Homo sapiens: one gene and its partners. The gene in region 1 interacts genetically with each later gene. Each region holds a gene or a part of one and is shown on either strand. Other genes may lie near its edges.

Region 1 (3,295 bases):
GCAATTATAATTTTTTTTTTTGGTAAAGACAAAATGTCTTACCATGTTGCCCAGGTTGGTCTCACTCAAACTCCTGGCCTCAAGTGATCCTCCCACTTTGGCCTCCCAAAGCCCTGCGTTTACAGGTATGAGCCACTGCACCCATTCCCTTTGCTGTGTTTTTCTGTGCTTATGTGTAGCTGCCAGAGAAGTCAGTCCTTGGCAGGCCTTTTTTTTTTTTTGAGACGGAGTCTCGCTCTGTCGCCCAGGCTGGAGTGTGGTGGTGTGGTCTCAGCTCACTGCAACCTCCATCTCCCGGGTTTAAGCAATTCCCTTGCCTCAGCCTCCCAAGTAGCTGGGATTACAGGTGCCCGCCATCACGCCTGGCTAATTTTTTTGTAGTTTTAGTAGAGATGGGGTTTCACCATGTTGGCTGGGCTGGTCTTGAACTCCTGACCTCGTGATCTGCCCACCTCGGCCTCCCAAAGTGCTGGGATTACAGGCGTGAGCCACCACGCCCAACCTTTTTTTTTTTTTTTTTTTTTTTTGATACGGAGTCTCCCTCTGTCGCCCAGGCTGGAGAGCAGTGGTGTGATTTCTGCCCACTGCAACCTCCACCTCCTGGGTTCAAGTGATTCTCCTGCCTCAGCCTCCTGAGTAGCTGGGATTACAGGCATGCGCCACCACGCCTGGCTAATTTTTTGTATTTTTAGTAGAGACGGGGTTTCACTGTCTTGGTCAGGCTGGTTTCAAACTCCTGACCTCGTGATCTGCCCGCCTTGGCCTCCCAAAGTGCTGGGATTACAGGCGTGAGCCATCGCGCCCGGCCGGTCCTTGGCAGGCTTTCTAAAGCAGAATTTCACAGCTTCTTACTCCAGAGGATGGATTAGGACTGGTGCCAGTGAGACTTCTTTGGGAGAGCCCTGGCCATCTCCTGGCTGCTGCTGTCCAGGGGCCTTTAGGACAGGCTGTACCATCTTTTAGAATTACCATGCTAGTTCTTTTAGTGATTCAAATTTCATCTCATTAAAGGATTTTAGAGCTGAAAAGACAAACACACCAAGGCTCACTTTTGGAAGGTTACCAAAAAATAGTGATTGCATGTAAAACGTTTTAAGATTTTTCCTTTGGAAATTAAAAGACAAGTAGTGTGATTGAATGTGCTCTTTGCCTGTGGCGCTGGGAGTATTTGGGTTTGCTCTAGCCTGCAGAATAGAAAGGAGGGGCTCTTGTCCCTTCTTGGGGGCAGGGTCCATCTTTCAATATTGCTGTTTAGGTATTTCACTGCTGTCAGCTGGGAAGTAAATGGAGGAGGAGGACTTCTCTAAATACCTTACTGTGGATTCATAACTTCCCCCCTTTGAATTCTATGGCCTTTCAGGTCTGTGGGAATGTATTTGGGATAATAAGGCAGGAAACAAGTGTGAGATGCTATCTTGTCTGTCAGAGGGCCAGCCATGAGAACCATCAGAAAAAAGTGGGCATACCAGGTTGCATTCTCCATCTAGCAGCCTGTGGTCACAGCAGCAAGATGTCTGGCTTTCCCTAACTTCAACCTTCAAACCATTTGTTCATCCCATTTAATTTTTAATTTTTATTTATTTATTTATTTTTGAGACGGAGTCTTGCTTGCTCTGTTGCCCAGGCCGGAGTATAGTGGTGCGATCTCAGCTTACTGCAACCTTCGCCTCCTGGGTTCAAGTGATTCTCCTGCCTCAGTCTCTCGAGTAGCTGGGATTACAGGCGTGCGCCACCACACCTGGCTAATTTTTGTATTTTTAGTAGAGATGGAGTTTTGCCATGTTGGCCAGTCTGGTCTCAAACTCCTGACCTCAGGTGATCCACCCCCTTTGGCCTCCCAAAGTGCTGGGATTACAGGCATGAGCCATCATGCCCGGCCCATCCCATTTAGTGTCAGTTTGTTTTAATCAGTATTTGATATTTAGATACTGACATGTTCAAATTCTATCTATCTGTAAAAAATGTTTTTTAGGTAACTTCCTAAATTATTTGTTTCTGTTAGAACGTTTGTACAGAATGATTTTAAACAGAGGAAACTTGTTTATAGATGCCCTTTAATGTCATCAAATATTTTCTTAAAAACCTTTATGATGTTTTTAATGCATTGAAACAAATTGTTCCAAAAAAACCAAATCAACAGTCTTTAAAATACTGAATTTTAGATAATGAAAAGAAGTGAAATGCTGAGGAGGCAGAGAAAAAAAATTTGAGAAATTACCTGATCATGGTAAAAATATCCTGACAGGACCAGTGGTTAGACAGGCAGAACTTCCTCGGGAGAGCCCCGCCCCTTCTGTGGCAAATCCTGTCTCCAGTTTCCTGCACATCCTACTCTGTGTTCAAAGGTTTCCCTGTGAGAGATTAGTTCACAGTTGCTGACACCTCACAATCTCCCTCACAACCTGCAGGAACCGTTACTTTGAGTTGTCAGAGGGTCATTCAGCTCATAGCTACTTTTCATAAACCATCCTAAAAATGTTCTTTATTGACTTGTAGATTTGTAAAAATTGTATCTGTTTAGGAAGGTGAACCTTCCGGAAAGAGAAAAGCAGAAGATGATGATAAAGCAAATAAAAAGCATAAGAAGTATGTGATCAGCGATGAAGAGGAAGAAGATGATGATTGAAGTATGAAATATGAAAACATTTTATATATTTTATTGTACAGTTATAAATATGTAAACATGAGTTATTTTGATTGAAATGAATCGATTTGCTTTTGTGTAATTTTAATTGTAATAAAACAATTTAAAAGCAAGTCTCTATGTTTAAGAAATCTACTTTTCCGGCCAGGCGCGGTGGCTCATGCCTGTAATCCCAGCACTTCGGGAGGCCGAGGCAGGTGGATCACAAGGTCGTGGTGGCGGGTGCCTGTAGTCGCAGCTACTCGGGAGGCTGAGGCGGGGGAATTGGTTGAACCCAGGAGGCAGAGGTTGCAGTTAGCCGAGATCGCGCCACTGCACTCCAGCCTGGCGACAGAGCAAGACTCTGTCTCAAAAAAAAAAAAAAATCTACTTTTCCCAAAGCGAACTGATTTTGTTAATGCTTTAAACAAACAAAGTCTTAGGTCTCAGTGAATTCCTGCTGCTCTCTCAACCCCCTTCCTCTCATTCCCCACAAAGAAGCCTTCTGGGCCAGGCTGAGATTCTCTCACAATTCTGGAGACTTGGAGTCCAAAATCAAGGTGTGGGACGGCCATGCTGCCTCTGAAGATTCTTGACAGGGATCCTTCCTTGCCTCTCAGTTTCTGGTAGTTCCTGGTGATCTGTGGCTTTTGACAGTATGACTTCAGTCTC
Region 2 (7,079 bases), on another chromosome or scaffold:
ATCCATTGCTAAGTCTGATCAATTCTAGATATACTTGTTCTTTGCTCTCTGTAAGCACAGTCTCTGTAAGCACCAATTACACTGGGATCATTAACATCTTTCTCAATAATTTTAAGAGCCACTGAGACTAGTCTCCCTGCTTTTCTTTTTCTTTCTTCAATCCATTCTTCACACAGCTGCTACCGTGATCTCCCTAAATGACAATTCTTATTTTACTCTGCTATTATATTAGCAACCAAACTCTCATTCAGCCTTAACAGCAGAATAAAGCCTAAACTTCTTAACGGGTACTGAAAGGCTTCTGGACCCAAACTATCTTTCCACCCTTCTCACCACAACATTTCAAAAAGGGACTGACTATTTACTGTTCTCTCAAAACACTGAACTCCTTTTTGACTCTCTGCATTTTCCCATCTCCTTACTTTTGCTCAGACCCTACCCTCACTTAGAGGGGTCTTCTCTTCATCTCCGCCCATAAATGCCATTCTTCATATGCCATTTAGTCATGTCTTACATTATGTCCAAAAAGTGCTTTCTCTATTCCCTTTATAGTTTCAGAGAATTTTATAGCTGGGATCACCTCATCTTACAAATAACCATGTCTGCAAATGCTAAAATCAAGTAATCAAGGTGACCGGCAGGTAGGCCTAGAATTTAGATACAACTTCAAATCTTTTCCTAAACCACATCTTCCCCCTTTCATAGTATTTAATCACACCTTGTCTTGTATTTTAGTTATTTATGTAATTATTCGTATGTTCATTCAATTGTGTGAAGACTAAAGGCAAATGTATTTCAGATACATCAGTTGTATGAAGTAGAACTTCAGATGTTTGTTGAACCTAATAAAAATTGCAACAAGAAATACAGCAACTCAAGATTAACCCAGCTACATGGGGTGGGGGCAGGGGGGTGGTTCGCCGGGGGGAACAAAAGAGTGGGGGCCACATGGCAGCTCCCCTCTGCCACCTCAGAGTAAATGTCACTTTAATATAATAAAGTCCCTGAACATAGCTAATAATTTCTTCCTCTGAGGAAAATAACAGTTGCCACTCTCACAGGCATCTAAGATTAAATGAAGCATTGCAGGTAGAAGACTTAACATACGGCCAGGCGCGGTGGCTCACGCCTGTAATCCCAGCACTTTGGGAGGCCGAGGCAGGCAGATTACGAGGTCAGGAGATCGAAACCATCCTGGCTAACACGGTGAAACCCCGTCTCTACTAAAAATACACAATATTAGCCGGGTGTGGTGATGAGCGCCTGTAGTCGCAGTTACTCGGGAGGCTGAGGCAGCAGAATCGCTTGAACCCGGGAGGCGGAGGTTGCAGTGGGCCAATATCGCGCCACTGCACTCCAGCCTGGGCAACAGAGCGAGACTCTCAAAAACAACAAAACAAACAAACAAAACACTTAACATAGTGCCGGGTATATCATTGCTGGTACATCATTTCTAGTCTTGGCCTTCCTCTCCTTTAATATAGCCTGTTCTACTATCCAGCCCTGCCATGACACTCCTCTGCCTTAAAACCTTCCACTCTTCCCACCACCTCCCTTACTGGATCAAGTCCAAACTGTTTGGTCTGGCCTTGTAGAAGCTGCTTCCAAGTCCTATCTCAGCCCAAGTTGCCTCTCCAGGCTCAGCACCTGCTGCTTCCCACCACCACCACTAGGGTCACATCAAACTGTACTTGGCTCCCTAAACACACAAGTTCTGCTAGGCCGTCTCATTCTTGTGAGTTTTCACCCATAATATAGTGGAAAAGCATTGGTTTTAAAATCAGACTTGGGTTCACTTCCAGCTCTATTACTTACGAGCTCCGTGACCTTGGGCAAATCATTTCTACTCTCGGGGACTAATTCCTTATTTATAACGCTACGACCAATTGTGTGTGTGTGTGTATATATATATATATGACCAATTGTGTGTGTGTATATATATATGGTATATACATATATATATATACACCAATTGTGTATATATATATATGGTATATATATATACACACCAATTGTGTGTGTGTATATATATGTGTATGTGTGTGTATATATATATATATCCTACCTTATAGTGTTGCTGGGAGGATTCAATGAATTAATGCATGGAAAGTAATTAGCATCCTGCCTGGTATCTAGAAAGGACTTGATCATGTTAGCTATAATTAGTAGGGTATGTTTCTACTTCACTCCTCACAGCACTAACTACATTGTACTGTGACTGCCTCTTTATGTGTCTGTCTCCCTACTGGATTGTAAAGTCCATGAAAGCACGAAGTATATCTCTTCCAGCGTTATGTGTACACGTTAATTACTGAAATGATATCTCTTGAATAAACGAATGCTTTAAATGGGTCCTGTTACCAAACACCTTCCCAAGGCTGTGAGTAGATGCACGCTCCAATATTGTCTCATTTTCCCGCGGCTTCGTCACCCCACTCTATGCACTCTGCACCGGTGATACCACTTTAAGGTAGATGACCGTCTCCCTCGACTGTGAGCCCCTAGGGTTGTATACTCACCTCGCATGCAAGTTTGAGGATTAAGCGACATAAGCTAAGTAAAATGACTGGTTGGTGCTTAATAAAATGTATCACTATTATTCACGGAAGGAGAAATAGGTCGCTGTGGAGGGCGAAAGGGGGAGGATTCTAGAGCCACTGCAAGATGCGACAGGGTGGGGTAGAGAGGGGAGGCGACTCCCAAAGCTGCGGAGGGGACCTCCGGGGGTCGACCTGTATATGCGTTGGAGGACTGGGGAGGGGGGCCCGGGTCCCAGGATCCGCGGAGCCCAAGGGGGGCTAGGCCCAGGCCCGAGAAGCCGCAGCCCCATGTCTCCCTTGCCTGTCCTCCGGATAGCCTCACCTCATCTACTTTCAGCTCCTCTAGAGTGGGCAGCTCCACTATCCCCGGCATGACGGCTGCAGCCCCGACCCCGACGAGAAGCCCTCAGCCGCGTCGCCCCCGTCTCCTTGAACTCCCCTTTCGACCGCCGAGTGCCACACGGCGCCTGCGCATGCGCATCCGGCAACACGCAGGCGTATTGCCCTGCCCAACCACGAGCGAGGGAGCGTGCGCAATACCAAGAACTTTTCAGCCTCCAGCGGGGTGGGGCTTCGATTCGGCTCCGCCCACCCCTCCAGGTTGTCATAGTGATGCCGTATCCACTGAGACTCCGGATCCTAACAGCTGGAAGCTAAAAACAGGCGCCATGGAGTACACAGGGAGCAAATATATCGGGGAATATGTAGATGGGAGGTAAGGGGCTCATTTGATTCACTTACTATACCTTGAATAGCTGTGACTGGAAAAAGACGGCTTTTTGCTTCTGCGAAACACCTTGTGCCAGGCACTTTCACAAACTTGCCCGAGTAATTTTTTCAAGGACCATATCTAATAAGCAGCAAAGCTAAGATGCATTCATTCCATATATACTTATATGTGTGTGTGCATTGACTGTGTGTGTGTGCTATCTGCCAGTTTTAAACATAGGAATAAGAATATTTAAAATGTCAAGATCCTTGCTCTTATGGAGTTTATAATCCAGTTGGAGATGTATTGCCAATAAACAAATAAGTGATAAAATAATTACAGATAATGGTAAATGCTATAAAAACAAACACGAAGATTAGGGAAGAGAGACTGGCTAATCTGAATCTACACGGTCGCTTCCTTCCAGGAGGAGTTCACGATCTAGGGATTATTATAGAGGATTATATACACAAATCACTGTAGTGGACTAGTAGTAAAAAACAATTCAACAGTTTTTTTTTCTTTTCTTTTCCTTCCTTCCTTCCTTCCTTTTTTCCTTCCTTCCTTCCTTCCTACCTTCCTCTCTTTCTTTCTTTCTCTCTCGTTTTTGTTTTATTTTCAGACAAGATCTCGCTCTGTTGCCCTGGCTGGAGTGCAGTGGCCTGTTCACTGCTTACTGCAGCCTCAACCCCCTAGGCTCAAACAATCTTCCCACCTCAGCCTCCCAAGTAGCTGAGACTACCGGTGTGCACCACTACCCCCAGCAAATTTTTCAACGCCTTTTGTAGAGACGGCATCTTGCTATGTTGTCCAAGCTGGTCTCATACTCCTGGGCTCAAGTGATCCTCTTGCATGAGCCACCGTGCCCAGCAATTCAACAATGTTGAGTGGCTACCGAGTACCAGGCCCTGTAATTGACTCTGGGCACAATCCCTGTCTTCAGAAAGTTCATTCAAACATGATGCGACAAGTAGACATAACAGATAACTGCGATTCAGTGTGGTAAGAGCTGTAGTAGAGAGAAGCAGAGGAAACACAGAGGTGGCCACTCTTTTTTGCCAACCACCCTGGATGAAGAAAGTGGAATCTCTGTTTTTATAGCTGAGGAAACCAAGGCTGGACGATATGAAGTGGTTTGCTGAACCAGTGCTAGTTGTCGGGACTGTGAAGCACTCCCACCTTGGGGCTCTGTATTCACAAGTTGGTGGAATTCCAGGGCATTCTGAGTTAATAGGAAAGAGGGATCTGTGGTCTGGACAGGGATAGGAGATAGATTCCTAGAGAGGGTGGTAGGAATGCTATGGGATGCTATCTCTCTAATCATTACATCAATTTTGCAAGGAAGATGTTATTATCTTTCCAGGTAAGAAAGGTGACCCTTACAGGGCTTGAGACACTTATCCTACTCAGCAGGTAAGTGGCAGAGGTGCTTGGTGTGTACTCCCTCTCACTACTCAGTGAGATAGTTCAGGCTGACCTTGCAAATAAAGGAACAGAAGTTAGGAGAAGCAAAATGACTGGCCCACCATTATGGATACACAGCTAGGAAGTAACAGAGTCAGGATTTGAACCCAATCCTCTGTCCAAACCACATTCTTACTTTTCACAAGGCTCTGCTACAGTGAAGGTGGTAGAATTTTGGCAGATAGAGATGGGGTATTGGGCATTTTAGGCACAAAAAGTTGAGAAACTACATTAATTTTCGATGGGCTGTATATGGGTGAGAGAGAAACACACAGACAAGGTAAAAGACGGAAGGCTTTCAACCATTTGCCTTTGGCCTTCTGTGTATTTTCATTGGGTTTGTGTGCTGAATCAGCCATTTCCATGCTTTGGCCCTAGGAATTTGGGCTTTGCTTGAGGTTGTCTGGTACCTCTGTAACCACGATAGGGATTCCCAGACCTGAACAGGGCTTCCCAATTTCCCATAACTAGCAAGAAGTCAGCAGTTTTTCACTTGTTATACTTCTTTTCATAAGTTGGACATGTGTTGTTCTGTACTGATTTTGTATTTTTAACAACAGTTAACTAGAATTCTATTTGGGGCATCTCAAATTTCAGCATGTAATGAGAGGATGAGACAGGTCTGGGCTCAAGTCTGCCATTTGCTTGTTGTACACTTAATTAACCATCCATACCTCAGTTTCCTCATCTGTAAAATGGGAAAGCAATGCACATTCAGCAGCAGTGTTCCAAGGAATATGTAATGATCATATATGGATGTTATTTACAAATGGTAGATACTCAATCAATTTTTTTTAATTTAGGGAGGGGATATTTTCCTCTTGGAGTTTAAATGAATAGAGTAACCTCTCTATACAGTAGGAAGTTGATATTTAACGTTTGGTTTAAAAAGTTTATGTAGACTCTCCATGGCTGATAGGAACATCAAATGGTACGACTGCTTTGGAAAAGTTTGGCAGTTTCTTGAAAAGTTAAACAGCCATTCCACTTATAGGTATTTACCCCAGAAATGAAAGTGTATATATACACAAAGACATGTATACAAGTACTCATAGCAGCCTTATTTATAATAACCAAAACTAGAAACAAACCCAAATGTCATCAACAGGGGAATGAAGAAACTAATTGTGGTATATCCATTCATTGGAATACTACTCAGCAATAAAAAGGAGTGAACTATTGGTACACAGAACAACATGAATGAATCTCAAAAAATTATGTTAAGTGAAAGAAGCCAGACAAAAAAAGAGTAGATACTGTATGATTCCATTTATGTAAAATTCTAGAAAATGCAAATCTATGGTGACAGAAAGTAGATCAGTAGTCACCTAGAGATGAGGATTGTGGGCAGGGGCAAGGAGGAAGTATTACAGAAAGGCATGCAGAAACTTTTGTGGGGAGTAGATATTTTGTCTTGATTGTGATGATGTTTTCCCAGGTGATGTCAAAACGTGTCAAATTGTACACTTTAAACACGTGGCCTATTGTATGTCAATTACACTTCAATGTATCTACTTAAAAAAAAAACCTTAAAAGAGACATGATTTCCCTGTACCACGTGTGAATATTAAAAAAAAAAAGGTTAATGTAGTATCTGTCTGACCTCAATATTATGGTTTCTTTGGAGTAGTCGCACAATTGAGTTCTAGATAACTCCACTCCAAAGCACCACAAGGTAAGTGCCAGAAGAGACCTACAGACACAGGGGAGGAAGGGACGCCCATAGCATTTATGTAGTAACTACTGTGCTCTGGGTGGCTTTGCCTGCATCTTCTCTTCACAGGGACTCTTTGAGATAGATATCATTATCCTATTTTACAGATGGGAAAAGTAAGGCTCGGAGTAAACCTGCCCAAAGTCACCCAGTTAGCATTTGGCAGAGCAGGTATTAAAACCCAGGTCGATCAGACTGTAAAGCCCACAGGCTTCCTACAATAGAGCCCTGCTGCTGTGGCCCTTCAGAGGCCACATACAGTCGGAGCCGTCCTTAAAGGCTTCGTGGAAGAGATAGTATTTGAAATGGGCCTTGAAGGTTGGGTAGGATTTAGGTGGTTGGAGATGCAAGGTGAAGAATTCTTTTTCTAGAAGTTTTTAGGCAGAGGGAACAGCATGAGCAATAGCCCAGAGGGCACGTATGGAGTAGAGCTGGCAGTTCAGTTTGGCAGGAGAGTGGGTTGTGCCCAGAGGAGTTATGCAAAGGGAAGCTGGACAGGCGGTCTGTGCTCTGGCAAAGAAATTTCAATACCGTGCACAATTCTGGTGGTGGAGGAACCACTGATAGATCCTGGTAGGGCCAAGCATCAGGAAATAAAACTTATTTCATCTCTGTAACTCTCCTCATAATGCATATGTGTGGTAGAGACTCA
Region 3 (5,981 bases), on another chromosome or scaffold:
TTGTATATTTTACTTTATTGGGTATATTTTTTGTATTCCTATATTCTTGAGCTTTGTTCTGGAACACAATTAAGTTACTTTGAAACAGTTGTGTTCCAGTTTGGTCTTGTTTTTAAGCTTTCTGAGTTGGGACCAGGGGTAGTTTTTATGTAGAGTTAATTTTTCTACTACTAGGGCATCTTAGTTCTCTTCCAATGCCACCTAGATTACAAGGTTTTCCACTGTGACTGTTGATAACAGGCACTATTTTCCACTCCAAACACTGTTCCCTCTAATTCTTTTGGGTGAGTTTCCTCACCGGCATGCACTATTAGTGTGTAACTAAATATCTGATGGAAACTCTCTGCAGATCTTAGTTCTCCTGCTGTGCAACTCTCTCCTCCAAGGCATTCTCCCCTGTGAACTCTAGTCATTTCGACTGCCCAACTGCACCTCAACTCCAGGAGACCGCCAGGTCCTGATGGGGTAACCCTTCCTAGAACCACGGACTCTCCGCAGATAGTAAGTACAGATAATTTTGTTTCCCCTCTCCAAAGGATCATTGTCTTTTATTGCTTAAAGTTCATTGTCTTTATATTTGTTAGGTACTTAAGAAGGAAAACTAACAGGACAGATAAGTTTTAGGAAATAACTACCTTACTCTAGCAAAATACCACACACAAAAAAAGGGGACCCACCCACACCAGACAACGTCACAGGCTGAAAACTTTCACCATCCAGCCTAACATGGCCTGCTCCCTATCCCACGGTGCCATTAGGGTGCTCCTCCTACTTCCAGCAGAAAGGCCTCAGCAGAGGTCCCGAGGACAGCGACAGGAGGAAACCTGGATCTCCATCCTCACCAGGCAGTAACGAGGCAGTGCCCCATCCCATACCAGCACCGTCAGAGGAAGCATGCTGAGAGATTTAAATAACTCCCAGAGCTTCATAACAGTGAAGATGACCAGGATACAGCCAAAGTCACTCATCATAACAAGAACTAGGACATTGTAAACTTGAATGAGAAAAAACCTCAAGGGATGTCAACACTAAGATGACACAGATGTTGAAACTTTATGACAATTTTTTTTTTTTTTTTGGAGACAAGGTCTCACTCTGCCACCCAGGCTGGAGTGGCATGAACAAGGCTCACTGCAGCCTCAACCTCCTGCAATCAAATGATCCTCCCACTTCAGCCTCCTATGTAGCTGGGACTACAGGCATACACCACCATGTGTGTCTAACTTTTAAATTTACTTTTACTTTTTGTAGAGATGAGGTCTCACTTTGTTGCCTAGGCTGATCTCAAACTCCTGGGCTGAAGCAATCCTCCTGCCTCACCTTCACAAAGTGCTGGGGTTATAGGCGTGAGCCACCACACCTACCTGATGACAAAGATTTTAAAGCAGCCACCATAAAAATGCTTCAGTGAGCAATTATAAACACTCTTGAAGCCATTTAAAGAAAAAAAAAGTCTCAGCAAATAGCCTCAGCAAATAAAGAGAAGACATAAAAAATAAACCAAATGGAAATTTTAACTGAAATATACAATGACAGTCAAAGTTAAAGTACTGCATGGATGGTTCAAGAGCAGAATGGAAAGGAAAGAGTAAATAACCAGTTATTCTGAAGATAAAACAATAGAAATTACCTAAACTGAGCAACACAGAGAAAACAGACTGGAAAAAAAATAAACAGCGCCTCAGGGACTCACGGGACAATAGTAAAAGATTCAACATTTTGGTCATCAGTGTCCCAGAAAGAGGATGTGGGTGGGGCAGAAAGAGTATGCAAAGAAATAAAAATATATATATTCCACAGAATGGGTAAAAACTTCTGTAAAGCATGTATGATAGGGGGGCTTATATCTAGAAACTATAAGGAACTCAATAATAATAAAAAATAACTTTTTAAATGGGCAAAGGCTCTGAATAGACATTTCTCCAAAAAACATATACAAATGGCCAATCAGCACATGAAAAGATGTTCAACATCATCAGCCATCAGGGAAATACAAGTCAAAATTGCAATGGTATACAATTAATATACCATTTAACATTCCCAATAGTAGCCTACAACTTCCATTTCCACTGTGGAAAACGGTTTGGAAGTTCCTCACGGTAGTCAAGTTACTTAACTGCTCTGTAAAATGAAGTTAATCACATTCACTTTGGATGAATGAGTTCATATATATTAGCTATAATTACTACAGCAATTATCATTGTGTACATTATTACTGATTGGGTCAAATTATTAACCCCGTCTCCCTAATTCATTTACTTTTGTTACTTTGGATGAATATTTAAAGTAGTCTTGAACTGAGATATGTATGTAAAGGTTCTATCACATTGGCATATAACATGTGCTCAACAAATGAAAGCTATAATTATTTATTTCCAAAGAGTTTAAAGATTAAACTTCCCTCAAAACAAACAAAAGGCAAGGTAACATCCCAAGCTGTGAGGGGCTGAGTCTCTCCTAGGTGCAGGGCAGCACAGGAACTGGCTGCACAAGGCCAGAGAGGTTACGTGGCGGCTCTCTTCAAATTAGACCACACAGAGCGCTTCATTCCCTGTGCAGTCTTCACATCTTCCCAGTCCAGTTTGACGTCTGGAACCTCATCTTCTGGCTCTGGATCCTTCCTCAAGGGCCCCCGGGGGGACGCAACCACAATGGGCAGAGGGCCACATTCCTCCCGGATTTCCACAACATGGAGGCCCTTCTTATCAGCCAGCTGTTGATGGGTTTCCTAAGCAAGACCAAATTCAGAACAGGTTAGGTCTGAAGTACATTTGCAACATAAAGAGCAGGAACTTCCACAGGCCACAACAGTACAGCCTGGGGGTATTCAAAGGCCATTTCAGTGGATTTGGGTTAATGTGTTTTGTGGCTAAACTCTAATAACCTGTCATGGGTGGAGTCATTTCAGCCTCATCTGCTGCATCTGCCCACCCCAAACTTGGATAGAGGAAGGGCCTTGGCCTCTGGTCTCTTGCCTTCTAAACCCTCCTGATTATGCACCATGCTGTGCCAAACACTGAACTTGAATCTCACCAACCCCCTAGATCTAACTACCAATTTACAGTAAATATAGGGGAGATAAGACACTAAGGACCCTACAGGTATTTTAGTCAGCAACAGGCCAGGAAGCACTACAAAACAAACAACCTGGTTTCCTCAACAAAAAATCATAAGCGGGGCGGGGGTGGGGGAAGAGGAGGGGAACCTATTTAAAAGGCATAGCAAAAACATACATTAACCTGTTCTGCAACCTGATTCAAACACATTGTGTAAAAAAAAAAAAAATTTTTTTTAATCTAACAAATGGAATTTGCTCATTTGTATGAACATTGATTGGATATTTGATGATACAAGTTACTGTTAACTTTTTAGGTATGATAATAGTATTACAGGGTATTTTTTAAAATCCTCATCTTTTCGAAGATACATACTAAAATATTTAGGGTTGAAATAAAATGTCTGAGATTTGGTTCAAAATAACTGGGGGTGTACTAAGAAGCAAGACTGGTCATGAGCTGGGTAACAGGGCCATGGGGATTCACTGCAGAGGGAAGCCACAGAGATCTGGAAGCAGGCAGATTAGTTCAGTAGACGTTATTCATGGTACAATGACATACCTGCTATGTCAATCCCGTGATCCCAGGCCTTATGGCTGCCTTGCACTATTCTAATTATATATCTAATGCCCTGCAGTATGTGTGAAATTAGAAAACAGATGAGCCATTTCATAAACAAAATAATTTATATTGGTGTATCTTTCAATCAAAGGCATATCACCTAAAGTGGTGGCATCTTTTCCTTTTTGAGTGACATATTAAATAATGCAACCTTTTATAGCTGATGGCATTTTAGGAGAGATGACATATGGTAACTATATCAGAAGGTTTAAAAGACTAAAAGAAAACAAAGATATCACATAAAAGAACAAGTCTAGGCTGGGCGCGGTGGCTCACGCCTGTAATCCCAGCACTTTGGGAGGCCAAGGCGGGTGGATCACGAGGTCAGGAGTTCAAGACCAGCCTGACCAACATGGTGAAACCCCATCTCTATTAAAAATACAAAAATTAGCCGGGCATGGTGGCACGTGCCTGTAGTCCCAGCTACTCAGGAGGCTGAGGCAGGAGAATCGCTTGAACCCGTGAGGCGGAGGTTGCAGTGAGCTGAGATGGAGCCACTGCACTCCAAGCCTTGGTGACAGAGCAAGACTCTGTCTCAAAAAGCAAAAACAAACAAACCAAAAACCAAAAACAGAACAAGTCTACTGGATCATAAATACAACCTATCTAAAATCAACATCTTAATTAAACCTCTAATGTTTCAATTTACAAGTGCTCTGAAGGGTGTTTTAGACAGTAACACACACAAAAGCTGTTCAGAAAACAGAAGGCTTTTACCCAAAGCCTTCTTTTTCTTTTAATTTTCCTACTTTAAACAGAGACATGTAAAATTACTCCATGGATCACTTTACCTAAAACCCACCACTGTACTCCTGAAATGTCAGGAAGCCTGCCAAAGTCCTCAGCTAACAGAGTTCAGCAAATGGAGCCTATTGAACCTGGTTGTCTTTTCTGTTCATCCACCTATGCTAAGGTCTACCCATCCTTTCAAGAGACAGGCCAGCCCTCCTGGGCAGGTAGGGGAGCTGCCCAAGAATGGGGGCCCGGTGCAGTCACAGCCCTGCCCTCCATGGTGGGTGATTGGGAGCCGGGCCCAGGGCTCCCACCTATGAGGAAAAGTAACCTGATATGTTAATGTTCATAGTTCCCTACCAACCCAGGCATCAGTCCGAACCACCTACACAGGTAACAGGGAACTGACTGTGCCTGCCCTGTGTGCAGAGGTGCCCTGGGTGCTTCATCCTAGCCCCAACTGAAAGGACTAAATTAGGAAATGAACTTTCTCTTTTGATTTTACTTTTCTATACTGTTGGAGCTTTAGAACAAGCAGGTGTTATTTTCATAATAACATGTAGATTGTAATTATTGGCTTTAAAAATGCTGCTTAGAAAAACCCATGAAGTACTTTTTAAAAGGTAATTTTCAGGCCGGGCGCGGTGGCTCACACCTGTAATCCCAGCACTTTGGGAGGCCGAGGCGGGCGGATCACGAGGTCAGGAGATCGAGACCATCCCGGCTAAAACGGTGAAACCCCGTCTCTACTAAAAATACAAAAAATTAGCCGGGCGTAGTGGCGGGCGCCTGTAGTCCCAGCTACTTGGGAGGCTGAGGCAGGAGAATGGCGTGAACCCGGGAGGCGGAGCTTGCAGTGAGCCGGGATCCCGCCACTGCACTCCAGCCTGGGTGACAGAGCGAGACTCCGTCTCAAAAAAAAAAAAAAAAAAAAAAAAGGTAATTTTCATGAACTTGTCAATGGATTTAACTAAACTGATGCAGTCACAGACAACAAAGAATGCCCAACTCCTCAGGTGGCCCCAGGAAAGCATCTCCAGGAGGCCCCAGGGCATCGTAGCCCCAACACACACAACTGAAATACAAACTAGAACCTCTGTTTCAGACCCCGGGAAAGGATTACCTGTCTGGAGAGCCCACGGAAGAGGCCCTGGGTGAGGCTGAGCATATTAATGGACCCAGAGACCTTGGCATACATGTCTTTGATGCCAATGAGCCGGCAGATGGTGATGATGGCCCTGTGGCAGCGGAGGCCGTAACCTAGAAAAGGAGAAACCGGGTGAAACACAGCCCACTCGCCTGCAGCCGGAGGAGTCACCCTGCTGGCTTTCGCATGGCTTCAGGCTCTGGGCTTCGGGAAACTGGTTCATATTCTGGTATCACCACTTCCTAGTGAGCTGACCCTTGACAACTTACTTAACTTCCAAGATGACACTTACTCAAACAGGATACTACAAGGATTAAGAAGATGACATCTACAAATATCTTGAACACATTTTGAGGGCAAAAAAACAGGATTGTTATTGAGATTAATAAACATGCATGAAAATTCTTGGCACCCCAGACTCATTT

Evidence for each region. Genes that interact genetically often act in the same process or in processes that back each other up.
Region 2: of LEO1 (region 1) and NDUFA8, a change in one rescues a mutant of the other (synthetic rescue), as found in Homo sapiens cells (one study listed by BioGRID).
Region 3: of LEO1 (region 1) and MRPS5, a change in one rescues a mutant of the other (synthetic rescue), as found in Homo sapiens cells (one study listed by BioGRID).

The regions. Positions count from the first base shown.
Region 1 is NC_000015.10:51,937,487-51,940,781, reverse strand, and holds the end of LEO1 (RNA polymerase-associated protein LEO1), read left to right. Parts: intron 1-2,496; coding exon of another isoform or gene 2,497-2,521; coding exon 2,522-2,626; 3' UTR 2,627-2,757; downstream 2,758-3,295. UniProt on the Homo sapiens protein: Component of the PAF1 complex (PAF1C) which has multiple functions during transcription by RNA polymerase II and is implicated in regulation of development and maintenance of embryonic stem cell pluripotency.
Region 2 is NC_000009.12:122,156,765-122,163,843, forward strand, and holds the start of NDUFA8 (NADH dehydrogenase [ubiquinone] 1 alpha subcomplex subunit 8), read right to left. Parts: upstream 3,016-7,079; 5' UTR 2,914-3,015; coding exon 2,863-2,913; intron 1-2,862. Other genes in the region: MORN5 (MORN repeat-containing protein 5), read left to right, coding at 3,209-3,255. UniProt on the Homo sapiens protein: Accessory subunit of the mitochondrial membrane respiratory chain NADH dehydrogenase (Complex I), that is believed not to be involved in catalysis. Complex I functions in the transfer of electrons from NADH to the respiratory chain.
Region 3 is NC_000002.12:95,084,854-95,090,834, forward strand, and holds the end of MRPS5 (small ribosomal subunit protein uS5m), read right to left. Parts: intron 5,670-5,981; coding exon 5,533-5,669; intron 2,729-5,532; coding exon 2,504-2,728; 3' UTR 516-2,503; downstream 1-515.